Homo sapiens: one gene and its partner. The protein of the gene in region 1 interacts with the protein of each later gene in a pairwise test. Each region holds a gene or a part of one and is shown on either strand. Other genes may lie near its edges.

Evidence for each region. The genes of interacting proteins can lie anywhere in the genome.
Region 2: the proteins of MKKS (region 1) and CDR2 interact in binary tests that used the Homo sapiens proteins (3 or more experiments, as listed by UniProt).

What each region holds. Positions count from the first base shown.
Region 1 is NC_000020.11:10,409,944-10,413,778, forward strand, and holds part of MKKS (molecular chaperone MKKS), read right to left. Parts: coding exon of another isoform or gene 3,792-3,835; 5' UTR 3,572-3,791; coding exon 2,587-3,571; intron 1-2,586. Other genes in the region: uncharacterized LOC128706666, read right to left, coding at 3,792-3,835. UniProt on the Homo sapiens protein: Probable molecular chaperone that assists the folding of proteins upon ATP hydrolysis. Plays a role in the assembly of BBSome, a complex involved in ciliogenesis regulating transports vesicles to the cilia.
Region 2 is NC_000016.10:22,367,823-22,371,657, reverse strand, and holds part of CDR2 (cerebellar degeneration-related protein 2), read left to right. Parts: intron 1-3,835.

The DNA of each region.
Region 1 (3,835 bases):
CTCTAGCCTGGGCAACAGAGCGAGACTTTGTCTCAAAAAAAAAAAAAAAAAAAAAAAAAAAAGCTAAAATGCCTAAAAACACTTCCATCTCAAAAAATTTATAGAATATAATCACTAAACAATTTCACTTATTTGAATATTGTTTACTTCTGAAATATTCAAGAATAATGAATACTTTAAAAAAGTGATCTAAGTAAAAAACCCAAAATCTTATAGTATAATTTCTTTCACATGGTGGGAACAACAGATTCTGCATGAGAAGGCCGGCTCTACTGCTTATCAGCCACTGGATGCTGTCACTCATGTCATTTAACTTTTCTGCCTCCCTCACATGAGAGGCAAGTGGGGATAATAATGCATACTTCACAAATAAATCAAACCAAGTCAAATGTTAAAAATGCTCCAGGCCGGGCGTGGTGGCTCATGCCTGTAATCCCAGTACTTTGGGAGGTTGAGATGGGTGGATCACCTGAGCTCAGGAGTTCAGGACCAGCCTGACCAATATGGTGAAACCTGTCTCTACTAAAAATACAAAAAACTAGCCAGGCGTGGTGGCGTGTGCCTGTAGTTCCAGCTACTAGGGAGGCTGAGACAGAATTGCTTGAACCCAGGAGGCAGAGGTTGCAGTGAGCCGAGATTGCGCCACTGCACTCCAGCCTGGGCGATAGAGTGAGACTCCACCTTAAAACAAACAAAAACCTCTGTAAGCTGCAATATGCTTCACATGTGGCACCCATCCACAGTAACACCCACTACACAACCTATATCATTAATAAACAGGAATTTTGTTTGAAGGCCTGAAATGAGGTAATGTTAACTTAGATTACCAGGGGAGATAGGTAAGGCCAAAAACATACTTCATCTACCTAAAAGTTTACCTGCGCTATGTGCCTGGTAGTTTTCCCCCTTTTCTTTTTTTCTCAAAAGCTCTCTGCTCCCAAGATCCAGGACTAAAGCTATGGCTATTAATGCCATGTTTAGGTATATATTATGGGCTAGTGTGGAAACCCAGCCCCCAGTTACAATATGGTTTCTACGGGAAAATGTTTGGTTTTTTTTTTTTTGATAGGGAATCTTGCTGTCACCAGGCTGGAGTGCAGTGGCGCAATCTCGGTTCACTGCAACCTCCACCTCCTGGGTTCAAGCAATTCTCCTGTCTCAGCCTCCCAAGTAGCTGGGATTACAAGTGCGGCCACCATGCCCAGCTAATTTTTTTGTATTTTTAGTAGAGATGGGGTTTCACCATGTTGGCCAGGATGGTCTCGATCTCCTGACCTTGTGATCCGCTCACCTTGGCCTCCCAAAGTGCTGGGATTACAGGCATGAGCCACCGCCCAGCCCTTTCTGTTTTTTTAGATGTAGTCCTGCTTTGTTGCCCAGGCTGGACTTGAACTCCTTGGCTCAAGTAATCCTCCTGCCTCAACTTCCCAGGTAGCTGGGACTACAGGCATGTACCACACCCAGCTAAAGTGTCCCATATTTTAAAAATGAGTCTGGAAGACCCAGTATTCACAAACTGGAAATTGCCAGATTCATGCAAAGCTAGTAGATATTTAAGGCTATCAGTCTGACTTACCATACCAACAACGAGTTCCAAGGAATTATTTCCATTATTAAGAAACTCTACTTTTGACAGTCATTTGAGTCTTACCAAGGTAGGGCAATAACCCAGAGATATTATGTATTCAACACTTGGCATACATATGGCTCCTTTTTGATAATTTATACTAAGACTTTTATTAAATAAACTTTAACAATGGTTTAAGTCTAGTAACTTAAAAATTGGAAACAATGCAGACTAAATGATCATCTTTCTGATAGATTGTCAAAGCAGTTAAAGGATACTGAAAAGTAGCTCACATCAGGAACTCTTCAGCTTGTCATTTTTCTTTGGCTCTAACAGTACTTATATCTGCTTTTAATTTGCTGAGTTTGTAAAATACAGTGAATTTTTTGCCTATTTTAGTTCTGTATATTACCAAATATATTTCGGTCAATTCAACAAACACTTTAGAACACCCACAGTGGGCCAGGCCTGTAATAGGTGCTGAAAGTAAAAGATGATCTTGGTTCTCAAGGTCAGGTGGGAACAGTTTTGATATAGGTAAAACATAGGTGCATGTACATCCCCCTCCCATTAGAAACAACTACTTAAGGAGAAGTACAGAAGTTTGCTGGAATTATGACAAAGTGAAGAAAAAGGGTCATTCTAGTTACAAAATTACTTTCTAAATATAACATGATTTAAAAGTTTTGTCAATTGAGGCTGAAGAATTTTGTGTAAAGTATGAAAGACCTTAGGATTATGGGGATGTTAGACTTCTCAATAACCTGTAAAATATTTGGGGGTTAGATGATATAGTACATTAGGGGGCTGAAAATACATAGAAAATGGCTATAATCACTGCATTTTTAGTATGTGAACAATACAGGATCTTTTCCAGAAACCTTTGCTGCCAGAAATGATACTGACACATGCTGGGTCAATTTTTCAAGATGTTAACAGTGACACAAACCAAAAATATCTCTGCTCAAAAAAGTGTGATTTATTAACTGTAAGAGGCAAAAGCAAAGAGTGATTTTTACCTGTCATTTTAGTCAGGGGTTCCATCAGAGTCACTCCAATTCTGTCTATGGCAATAATACGATGCATATTGAGAAACTGCTTCAAAGATGGATGTATAACTTTTTGGCACAGGACAAGATCTACGTGGTCACTGATTAGCTGCCTTCCTAGGTTAAGCAGCTGGTCCAAGACTGCATTTTCAAGAGAAACCCCATAACTGACCACCACAGTTCCTTCTCCAGTGTCAGAAGTGTCTCCGGATAAAGTTGTACAAAAGAGTGCCACCTTGAGGGCAGTTGATTTTTTGATAGGTAATAGCCTCATTAATTGAACTTCTGACATTTCAATGAGTATCCCAGGTAATACAGTGGAATCTATAACTCTTTGACCTTTTAAAGGTACAATTAAACTCTTTCCTAAAATGATGTGGCCTTCAGCATTTTCTGGAATTGTAAGCAAAAAGGCTCTCAGGATCAAAGCACTGACATGCTCTGTTTCCTTTCTGGTGAGCATACAGGCAGGTTTACTTGTTAATATACTACGCACCAAACAAAGGAGGATCTGAGTACTACTAAAGTCCACTGGGATTCGACAACCACAGGTCTCAGACTTGAGATAACTGATGCAAAGACTCAAAAGATGTTTATTTAATCTAATGACAGTGGTGGGTGTCAAGCCTAATCTCTGAACATTTTCAATCAGGTTGCAGCAAAGAATAGCTGTGAATAAGCCACAATCACTGAAGCTTGACACATGATTCTGTATGGAGGCTGTCAGGATCTTTAAAATGGGATGTGTGACCAAAAGGTGACTGAGCAGAGCTGAGGACTGTGAGGTTGTACACACGTAACCTCCAAAGCCATTGTGCAGCTGCTTCAGCCTACCTGAGGGGCCATAGCATGATGTTACAATTCTTTTCAAGACAGAAAGTGTGGTCCTGACTCTCTCAGTTGTCAGTGGTTCACTCTTACACAATGATGGCTTCTTAGCTTCCAAACGAGACATCTTACTTCAGGTGGTAACTAGTGAAGACCGTTTTTATTTTGTAAACCACATTTTTCTATTTATTGCATTATCACGTTTTAACATTAAAAATTATTCTTTAGGAATTAAAGTATGAATATGCAGCATTGTGGCTATAAAATCAAAAAGTTCAATGTTTATGAAGCTAATCAGCATAGAATGATTTAATGACAAATTAGTAATTCCAAATATTTATTTTACTTCACTCTTCAATACTCTTTTGTTTGCTTTGAGACTGAAATTTTA
Region 2 (3,835 bases), on another chromosome or scaffold:
AGGGTATCCTTTCCCCAGTTTTGCTAAGTTATATGTTAACTCCTAAACTTTTAACAGATTTTAAAACTTGTTCATTTCTCAAAAATGTATTATCTGCTCTTTGCCAGGTATTCGCCTGGGCCCTGGGGCCACAGCACCTCCCCACATGAGTGGATAGGTAGGATTCCTACTCCCATAGAGTGAATGTTCCAGGAATCTGTTCACTAGAGAAGCCTGGAGGTGCCGCCTCATGGGATGTGCCCACTACAGCGCCTCGTACATTGTAGGCCCTCAGTAGACACTTGCTGCTGAATTAAGTTTGGGAGCAGGTCTGTCCTGTTAAACAGATTATTCAGCAAGTCTAGTGGGATTTTATGTGCAGGCATCTGTCCGTTTTTTAACATCCTCATTATTATTACTGAGCAAGGCTTATTTGGAGAGAACTGCTTAAAACTTTTTTTTTTTTTTTGAGGTGGAGTCTCGCTCTGTCCCCAGGCTGGAGTGCAGTGGCACGCTCTTGGCTCACTGCAATCTCCGCCTCCCGCGTTCAAGCCATTTTCCTGCCTCAGCCTCCCAAGTAGCTGGGATTACAGACACGTGCCACCACACCCAGCTAATTTTTGTATTTTTAGTAGAGACGGGGTTTCCCCATGTTAGCCAGGATGGTCTCAATCTCCTGACCTCGTGATTTACCCGCCTCGGCCTCCCAAAGTGCTGGGATTACAGGCGTGAACCACCGCACCTGGCTGGAAAACAACTTTTAATGATCCTGTTCTCAGTATCTTACAACTATAGAATGTTTTCCTTTAGCAGTAGTAAGCCATGCTCTGAATAGATTGAATCTTTGTATCAAAGTTTCCTAGGGTATCCGTTTTTAAATTGAAATTGCTGGAAATTTCTAACCTCAGTAAACTCTGGTCTACTATTCATACCTTGTTAGAAACATGTAAAGCTTTTGTGTAGGCAGGAGGAGAAAACCCTTTGCTGTTACAAAACTCTTTGATGAAGAGACTGTCTTTTGTCAGAGAGCTGAGTTGGCTCAGTAGGAATACTGACAATAATCTCTGTGGGTAAGATCTTTTCTGGGACAGCAGGAGCCTTCAGTGCAGGTAATGATGGTGCTTGCTTTGAAACATGCCCCTGAGAACAAGGTGGAAAGACTTCAGAGACTGGATTTTCTTTTAAACCAGCTGCTATTGTCATTTGGTGAGCTGTGCAAACTTAGAATAAGGATTCAGGTTTCTGTTATGTGGATCAGTAAATGAACTCTTAGTTTAAAGGAATCCTAAAATTGCAGGATGAGTACATCCTCCTTGTGTACAACTATTTTGCTGAATCACTGTTTGGAGGGTTATTAAAACTGACAACATCATTTTTCTTGATATTTATATTCAGGTTTTCTGCTTTCCCAATTATAGTAACATTGGCAACAGGAGTTAAACAGAAGCATCACTAAATGACGCATTTGACTTTGTAATAGGAAAAACTTTCAGCCTTACTGTTAGTGAATTACTCCTACAGACTACAGCTGCCAGTACTAATTTTTTGCCTAAAGCATAGAGCTGAGTATCTGTTTAAAGCTAACAGTTTACACCATTAAAAATATATTATTACCTGCAAAGACTCATTAGTGAAAGAATATTCAACATATGAAGGTATTGATATGTTGAAATTCTCAAGCCTGCAATAAATCTACAGTATTTTTAGTAGTTGCCTAAACCAGGCCAGTTCAATAGGATTTAGAGAAGACCCTCTTAATGAAAATTCATTTTGTAATCCTGTAGAGATGAACAGGTGTATAAGGCTTCGAAACTATATTATTTCCTTTTCTTTTGTGCCTTAATTAAAACTATAAGGGACATTCAATATTCTATTCCCTCCACTAATTATTTAGAAAACTTTCTTGGGCTTACTGCCAGCTTTTGGCCTCTTTTGGTTATGGAAGCCAGCTGCTACTCAACAGGAAATGAACTTTTTTTAAAGACAAAGTCCGGTGTCTTTAAGCTAACAGATGAAGTAATATCCTGTTATACAGTGTGACTTCACAGGAGCTTTCTTGTAGTTGGGACTTGTTAAAATTCTATCCTTAACAGCCTATAAATATTTAGGAGATCGAGACTTCAGGTTTCTGAGCCAGGCTGGTGCTTTGTTTTACTGGAAATAAGGTTTGAGATAAGGACAAGTCTCAAATTCTTTTTTGTTTGCTATCTACTAAAGAGTGCTGTCCTTGGTATCTCTTTCTGCAGGAGCAGGGAAGAGGTTCCTGGCTACTCTTAAGTAGCACAGGTAGTTCCATAACTGAATGAAAGTGGTGATAGTCTCAAGACAGTCTGGATTCTGGGAGAGGTTTCAGCCCAGTTGGGTTTTGTTTTTTTTCTTTTTTTTTTTTTTCCTGCTAAGAGACAAGGTCTTGCTATGTTGCCCATGCTGGTCTCGAACTCTTGGCCTCAAACAGTCCTCCTGCCTTGGCGTCCCAAAGTGCTGAGATTACAGGTGTGAGCCACCACACCCGGTCCTTGGCTCAGGCTTTGATTGCTGGTTAAGAGCATCTTTGGTGAATCTGAGCCTTCCCAGTGAGGAATTACCACTTCACACATTTAAGAAGGAAAGACTTAAGTAATACCTAGGTAATGTTTTTATACTTTGTCTTTAATACAGTGTGGTAGCTTCCATATGGGTCTATGTATACACATTACACACTCTGTGAGTACAAAATCATTTTTTCTGGAACATGTTGAGCCATACATAGTTCCTTTTTCATTTGGTGAAAACAGGGTATTAACTTGCCTGGGGTTGTATGTGCTTTCACTAGCAGAGCAGGCAATAAAAACCCAAATAGTTGAACTCTAATTTCTCATTGCAATCTGTGAAAACAAGTAGAAGAAATTAAGTACCTCAACAAGGGGAACATTTGTATTCTCTACCTTAAAGAAGCCTGCGGACCTCTCTTTCAATTGCCTTAAAACTCTGCAGATGAAGATAACAAAGAATCGTGATGAGAGTGAGAGTGAGAACCTGTTGACCTAAGAGTTTCTGTTTGATCTGTGACTCACCTTGGAGCTTGATTAGGTCAATTAACAGTTTTGTGCTTCAGGCTGTCTCATCTGAGAAACTGGACTAAATACCTTTAAAGATATAAAGACTAATGTCTCTAGAAAACAAAAAGTAGGCTGGGGGCAGTGGCTCATGCCTATAATCCCCAGCACTTGGGGAGGCCGCGGTGGGCGGATCACTTGAGGTCAGGATTTCGAGACCAGCCTGGCCAGCATAGTGAAACCCCATCTCTACTAACAATACAAAAATTAGCCAGGTGTGGTGGTGGGTGCCTGTAATCCCAGCTACTCAGGAGGCTGAGGCAGGAGAATCACTTGAATCCAGGAGGCAGAGGTTGCAGTGAGCCGAGATCGCACCACTGCCCTCCAGCCTGGGTGACAAGAGTGAGAGACTCCATCTCAAAAAAAATAAATAAATAATGACAAGAAAAAGACTAATGTCTCTTAAATGCTTTGAGCTATTTGTAAAAGTTCTGTGTTTTGTAAATACAAGTTATTTCATAGATTTAATGGAAGTCTTTATTTTTTATTTTTTTATTTTTGAGACAGGGCCTCACTGTATTTTTGGTAGAGATGTAATTTCACCATGTTGCCCTGGCTGGTCTCGAACTTCTGAGCTCAAGCAGTCCATCTGGTTCACCCTCCCAAAATGCTGGGATTATAGGCATGACCCACTGCACCTGGCCTCTAAAGTCTTAATGAATGTAATGACTAATAGACATTGTTAGTTTTGAAATCACAAGAGAATGTATTTTAGCACCTATCTACCAACAGTATACTGTTTTATTTTAAATGGGTGTAAA